Linked DNA regions of Homo sapiens. The protein of the gene in region 1 purifies or fractionates together with the protein of each later gene. This does not show direct contact. Each region holds a gene or a part of one and is shown on either strand. Other genes may lie near its edges.

What was found.
Region 2: the proteins of WFDC9 (region 1) and TXNL1 purify together in Homo sapiens (affinity purification with mass spectrometry; one large-scale study listed by BioGRID and IntAct). This does not show direct contact.

What each region holds. Positions count from the first base shown.
Region 1 is NC_000020.11:45,624,749-45,628,579, reverse strand, and holds part of WFDC9 (protein WFDC9 precursor), read left to right. Parts: intron 1-3,831.
Region 2 is NC_000018.10:56,596,888-56,600,818, forward strand, and holds the end of TXNL1 (thioredoxin-like protein 1), read right to left. Parts: 3' UTR 322-3,931; downstream 1-321. UniProt on the Homo sapiens protein: Active thioredoxin with a redox potential of about -250 mV.

The DNA.
Region 1 (3,831 bases):
GTTTTTCTTTTTGTCCACTCATAAATGAACAATTTAGAGACTGGACACTGTCATAACTATCCTAGCAAAGAGGGGTTATATAGAGGAGAATCATCATCTCAAATAGAAGCTGCATTTTCCTTACCCAAGCATCTTGCAGCCAGTGCCACAATGTAAATATTTTGGCTAACAGACTTGTCACTACTAGGTCAAGACCCTAAGAAGATGGCAAGTCTCTTTCACACTCTTTTTCTTTTCCACCAGCTCAGTATAGATGACAACAAGGTTCTAGAGCCTAGTGAAGCCAAAAGGTGAAAGGAGCCTGGGTCCTTGACTTCTTTTATCACATGAAAAAAGGATACCCATTGTTTTAGAATACTCATTTTGAATTATTATTTGAGCAAGAAATAAAAAGTATATTGTATTTCAGTTATTATGTGATGGAGGCTTTCTGTTAAAGCAGTCTAGTCAACATTGTGGCAGGCTCAAGTACTGACATTTATAAGGGGAAAGATTTATGGGTATATAGAAGGTCTATACTTTATACATTCAAATTATTGATAGAGTAGTAAATTTAGTAAAGAGATGGGTAATTTGAACATTATGATTAATAAGCTTGACTTAATTAAAATATACAGAAGTCTGCATAGAAAAACTAGAGGAACACATTTTTCTCAAGCACAAATAAAACATGTACAAAAAGTGACTATACATTAGGCTATAAAAAAAGTCTGAACAAAATTTTAAAGAATTACATCACAAAGGACATAGTTTCAGACTATAATGGAAATAATTAGAAATTAGTCTAAAAAAAGACAATTACTCAAAACTGAACAGAAATTTCAAATTAAAATATATAAGTCAGAGCTTCCAGGTGGCTACCACTGAACACTTAGAGGTTGTTGGAGAGCAGCATGCTCATGGAGGGCATGGAAGCTCTCTAGCCTTTCCCCATATCTCACCTTATGCACCTCTTCCTCTGTATCCTTTGTGATATCCTTTATAATTCAAAAACCTAGAGGAAATGGATAAATTCTTGAACACATACAACCTACCACACTGAACCAAAAAGAAACAGAAGAACCTGAACAGACGAATAACAAGTAAGGAGATTGAATCAGTAATAAAAAGTCTCCCCTGAAACAAAAGTCCAGAACCATATGGCTTTACCACCAAATTCTATGACCCTTTAAATATAAATTAATACCAATTCTTCTCAAACTATTCCAAAAAATTGATGCGGCAGGAATTCTTCTTAGCTCAATTTTATGAGGCCCACATAACCTTAATACCAAAACCAGACAATAACAAGACAGCATAAAGAAACCCACAGGCCAATATTCCTGATGAAAATAGGTGCAAAAATCCTCAACAAAATACTAACAAACCCAATTCAACAACACATCAAAAAGATAATGTGGCATGATCAAGTGGGATTTATCATACGAATGCAAGAATGGCTCAATGTACACAAATCAATAAATGTGATACTTCACATCAACAGAATCAGGGACAAAACCATACGGTAATCTCAGTAGATACAGAAAAAGCATTTGATAAAATTCAACACCACTTTATGATAAAAACTTTCAATAAATTATGTATGAAAGGAAAGCACCTCCACATAATAAAGATCATATATGACAAACCCACAGCTAACAATATACTTAACGGTGAAAAGCTGAAAACTTTTCCTCTAAGAACTGAAACAAGATATAGAGGAAAGGCTAGGGAGCCTCCATGCCCCTCCATGAGCATGCTGCTCACTTTACCCACTCTTATTCAACGTAGTACTGGAAGTCCTAGTTAGATCAATCATGAAAGAGAAAACAATAAAGGACATCAAAATTGGAAAAGAGGAAGTCACATTTACCCTGTTTGCAGACAAGCTCTTATGTAGAGAAAAACTTAGACTCTACCAAGAAACCTGTAGAACTCATAAAGAAATTCAGTAAAGTTACAGGATACAAAATAAACATACAAGTCAGTGGTGTTTCTATGCACAATGAACTAGTTAAAAAAAGAGACCAAGAGGGCAATCCCATTTATAACAGCTACAAATAAATACCTAGGAATAAATTTAACCAAGGAGATAAAAGACTTCTACATTGAAAACTACAAAACACTGATAAAAGAAATTGAAGAGGATACAAACAAATGGAAAAACTTCCCATGCTCATGGATGGAAGGAGTTAATATTGTTAAAATTACCATACTACCCTAAACCATCTACAGAGTCAATGCAATCCCTATTAAAATACCAGTGACATTCTTCACAGTAATATAAAATAAATCCTAAAATATGTATGGAACCACAAACATCCTAGAATAGCCAAAGCAATCCTTAACAAAAAGAACAAAGCTGGAGGGAACAGGTTTCAAGACTTCTAAATATACTACCAAGCTCTAGTAACCAAAATAGCATAGCACTGGCATAAAAACAGACACGTAGACTAATGGAATAGAATAGAGAACTTAGGGCCAGGTGCAGTGGCTCATGCCTATAATCCCAGCACTTTGGGAGACCGAGGCAGGTGGATCACATGAGGTCAGGTGTTCGAGATCAGCCTGGCCAACATAGCAAAACCCCATCTCTACTAAAAGTACAAAAATTAGACGAACATGGTGGTGCATACCTGTAGTCCCAGCTACTCTACTCTGGAGGCTGAGGCAGGAGAATCACTTGAACCTGGGAGGCAGAGGTTGCAGTGAGCCAAGATTGTGCCACTGCACTCCAGCCTGGGCAACAAGAGCAAGACTCTGTCTCAAAAAAAAAAAAAAAAAAAAAAAAAAGAATAGAGAACCTAGAAATAAATCCATGCGTCGATAGCCAACTGCTTTTTGACAAAGATGCCAAGAACATTCACTGGGGAAAGGATAGTCTCTTCAGTAAATGGTGCTAGGAAAACTGGATATCCATATGCAGAATAATGAAATTAGACCTTCGCCTCTCACCCTATACAAAAATCAGCTAAAAATGGATTAAAGATCTAAAGGTAAAACCTGAAACTGTAAAACTACTAGAAGAAAACACAGGGGAAATACTTCAGGACATTTTCATGATCTTACAAAAAGATTTTTAATATAAGATCTCACAACCATGGGCAACAAAAGCAAAAATAGGTAAATTGGATTATATCAAACTAAAAAGCTGCTGCACAGCAAAGGAAACAATCGACACATTGAAAAGACAATCTACAGAATGAGAGAAAATATTTTCAAAGTATTTGATGTGGTTTGGCTCTGTGTCTCCACCCAAATCTCATCTTGAACTCTAATCCCCATGTGTGGAGTGAGGGACCTGGCAGGAGGTGATTGGATCGTAAGGGCAGTTTCCCCCATGCTGTTCTTATGATAGCGAGGGAGTTGTCATGAGATATGATTGTTTAAAAGGTGCAGTTTCCCCTGCATGAGCTCTCTCTCCTGCCACCATGTAGGACGTGCCTTGCTTCCCCTTCGCCTTCTGACATGATTTAAAGTCTCCTGAGGCCTCCCCAGCCATGTGGAACTGTGAGTAAATTAAACCTCTTTTGTTTATAAATTACCCAGTCTCAGGTAGTATCTTCATAGCAATCTGAGAACAGACTAATACATTATTCATTTGACAGGGGATTAATATCCAGAATATACAAGAAACTCAAACATCTCAACAGCAAAAACACAAACAATCCAATTTAAAAAATGGGCAAATGATCTGAACAGACAATTCACAAAAGAAGACATACAAATGACCAACAAATATATGAAAAAAATGACTTCATTGTTCTCTCAACATCACTAATCATCGGGGAAATGCAAGTGAGAACTATAATGAGGTATCACCTCACTCCAGTCAGGATCGCTACAATAACA
Region 2 (3,931 bases), on another chromosome or scaffold:
TAATTATATGACCAGAGAAATGAAACTATGATACTATCTCTACTATACTTTGTCACAGGGAGATTACAGGGATCTAATGAAGGAGTTCCTTTTTACTGGAAACCCCAGAAGAGCAGGTATTAACAATTAATATATTTGATAATGCCCCCCAAAATTAGAACCCTTATTACTAAGGCAACTCAATGACCCATTCAGGACTCTAACAGGAATCATCTTTGTGATGTGAAATTAGAAACTTTTAAGAGAACAAAAGCAATCAAGAAAAACAGTACTAGAATGACAGATAGGACAAAATTTATAAACAAAATACAAGAGAAAAAGCACCTGATAAGATCCTTTAATGACAACTTCAAAGCAGTGTTTCATATTCTCTTACAAAATAGTGCCATCCATCTCCAAGTTTTGCCAAGTGTCATGTAAAACTGTGTTCAATGGTAGACTATAAAAGCATCTACATTTCTTTGCCAGAGGGTTTTGGAATAATTATCTGCTGATGCTTCAACTGAAAGTTTATTAATATGATCAATGATTCCTATAATTAAGCACTAGAAAGACTGTTTCCACAATTTAATGGATTAAACAACTGGACATCCCAGCTAATTTCAATATCACATTTGAAGATGGTGACTGCTCCCTCTTGGATTCATTAACACTACTTTATTACCACCTCCTGTTTTTCCTCCCTTTCCTGTTTACTACTCTACCTTCCAGGTTCCTCTTTTCCCAATTCTTTAATATTTCTTAGGATTCCCTAACATTTGCTCCTTAGTTTCATTCTCTCCCTTTATATTCTAAAAATTCCCATTCATATACATATTTCAGTTTTCATCATCTAAACAACTCCTAGTTCCTTGCTTCTAGCTCTAAGCTCTAAAATCACATTCCTGGCTTTTTACTTACTAGACATCGCCACCCAAATACCAAAAATGCAATTTAAGGCAATGTACCCAAAACCATATTCATCTTCCCCTCTGAACGTTCTGCTTCTCCTAAGAGCTACTTCTATATTCAATTGTAAAAGTGAGAACCTTGTGAGACATCACAGACTTCTCTATGCTCGCTCCTCCCATAAATTAAGGAGAAAGTTTGATCTCTTTCACATGGCAAGAGGAGCTTCACCTTACCGTCTCTACTTGCTCTTTCAGCTTCTCCTTCACTTCCCTAGAATGTCTCTTACACTTAACTCCCACTCTATGAACACACTATGCACTTTTCCTTTACTTCAGCTAAATTATCTTCCTTACCTTCCTCAACTGCATATTCCTACTTTATCTCTGACTCAACCCAAGCATCTCCCCTTGGACCCTGAGAATTTTTTCAACATTGTATTTAATGATAGAAACCAAATAAACTGGCTTAATACTAGAGACAAAATACTTGTATTACAGCTCACAATCTAGTAGTCCAAATAAGACTACAGATCATTACAAGTAGCTTGATAAGTATCCGGATGAAATAATGGCAAGGTGTCATAGCAGCTGAGGAGGCGTGCACAATTGTTATGATTATTCCCGGTATCAGTTTTCCTTGGACTGAGCCTTGTAGATAAGTAGGAATTGGTCAGATGGAAAAGTTAGGTCAGAGGAAGGCATGCGATATTAGGGTACGTTCTGCTACCTGGTAATACAGCACAGCACACTGGAGAAATGAGGGGCATGGGGAGGCTAGAGGAGGAGAGATTACATTACAAAGACCCCATAAAGAAAAGAGAACCAGCGGCCATGTGGGGGATACATGAGAGAGGCCAGAGCAGAAACAAAGAGACAATTAGGAGGCACTGCAGTATGCCAAGCAAGTAATGATGGCCTAAAAAGCAGTGACAGCTGAGAGCAGGATACAGAAGATACTTATCCTTGTTCCAGATACAAAGTAAGGCGCATCTTCAGAACAAGTCTAAGAGATAGATGTTCCTATTTTTACACAAGAAGAAATTTGAGCTCTGAAGGATGTTACTTGCTCAAGATGACACAGCTAACAAGTGGAAGAGCAGGGATTCAAACTTCAGAGATTTTGCTCCTAGGTAGTATGATGAGCCAGTATCTCCAAATGCGTGTCCAATTATAAACCAACAGATCATGTTTTCACAATTAATTCTGGTCTGTTCAACTTAGAAATAATTCCAAAATAAAATTCCTCTTCCCATAGAGAAGCATAGCAAGCACGAAGGAAAAATACTCTAGCAGTTTTAACATTGCATATCCTTAAGATTTTAATATTCCAAGCTGTGTACAATTTTAGTACATTCAAATTCTAAAGGTTATCTCTTTATCTTATAGTTCTCTAATTACACATTCTCCAACTAATAATTTTACATGGACCACAAAGTTTAAAAGCGATCTTATTAGCCTACAAATCTCCACTGTCCTCTTATTCCTATAGTGCTGAGCATGTTAAAAAAAAAAAAAAACCTTATTGATCAAAAATAAAACTTGAATTTTGAAACATGCTTAAAATGACATCAGTAGTCTTCCTTAAGAAGTATAGGCTTAACTGGGGAATAGTCAATATTTTAAAATTTATTTACTATATGCATGTTATATATACTTGCTTTATGTGTATTATAAAGCATAATCTATATTTACAAAACTGTAAAATACACACCTCTAATAATGAGTTTTAAAGCTAAATGAGCAAAATATTCCTCTAGTTTTTCTTTAGCAGTTCTGTGAATGGATTTTTTTTTTTTTTCTTTTGAGACAGTCTCACTCTGTTGCCCGGGCTAGTGTGCAGTCATGCGATCTTGGCTCACTGCAACCTCCGCCTCCCGGGTTCAAGCGATTCTACTGCCTCAGCCTCCCAAGTAGCTGGGTGTGGCACCTGCCACCATGCCTGGCTAATTTTTTGTATTTTTAGTAGAGACAGGGTTTCTCCATGTTAGCCAGGCTGGTCTCAAACTCCTGACCTCAAGTGATCCAGCCGCCTCGGCCTCCCAAAATGCTGGGATTACAGGCATGAGCCACTGTTCCCAGCTGGATTTCTTACTCTAAGTTACTTATCTTAAAAAAAAAATAGTCTAAGATTACAAATTATCAGTTCCAGAAGAGATATACCTAACACAAAAATTAACCTACTAAATTGAACTATATGAGTATCAATACAAGCAACATGAGTAAGCCTTAAATTTCATGTTTTTAAAGCTTACAAAGGGTGTAACTAATTTATTCAACTCCAACACTTTATTCTTATTACAGAATCAAAGCTTTTAGACATTAAGAGGAACAAGGGAGGATCTGAACTATTTTAGGTTTAAAAGCCCATGATCAGGGATATTAATTGCAGCCATAAATAAACTGCTGAGGCCAAATAAACAACTGCATTCCTATAATCGCTGCCAAAAACACTGCATACATCCTCAAACATTGAGACAAAGGATGGCAGACAGGTTTCAACTCTAATTGTTAAGTGGCTGCCTCCAACAGAATATTGAGACTGGGGAACAATGTGGGGCAGGTTTCAACTCTAATTGTTACGTGGCTGCCTCCAACAGAATATTGAGACTGGGGAACAAAGTGGGGCAGGTTTCAACTCTAATTGTTACGTGGCTGCCTCCAACAGAATATTGAGACTGGGGAACAATGTGGGGCAGGTTTCAACTCTAATTGTTACGTGGCTGCCTCCAACAGAATATTGAGACTGGGGAACAACGTGGGGCAGGTTTCAACTCTAATTGTTATGTGGCTGCCTCCAACAGTATATTGAGACTGGGGAACAACGTGGGGCAGGTTTCAACTCTAATTGTTACGTGGCTGCCTCCAACAGTATATTGAGACTGGGGAACAACGTGGGGCAGGTTTCAACTCTAATTGTTACGTGGCTGCCTCCAACAGAATATTGAGACTGGGGAACAACGTGGGGCTTGATGTCAAAGAGAACTCAGAAGGATTATAAAAGCCTGTCGTGGGCACAAGAATGTGGTACCTTGTGCTACTCT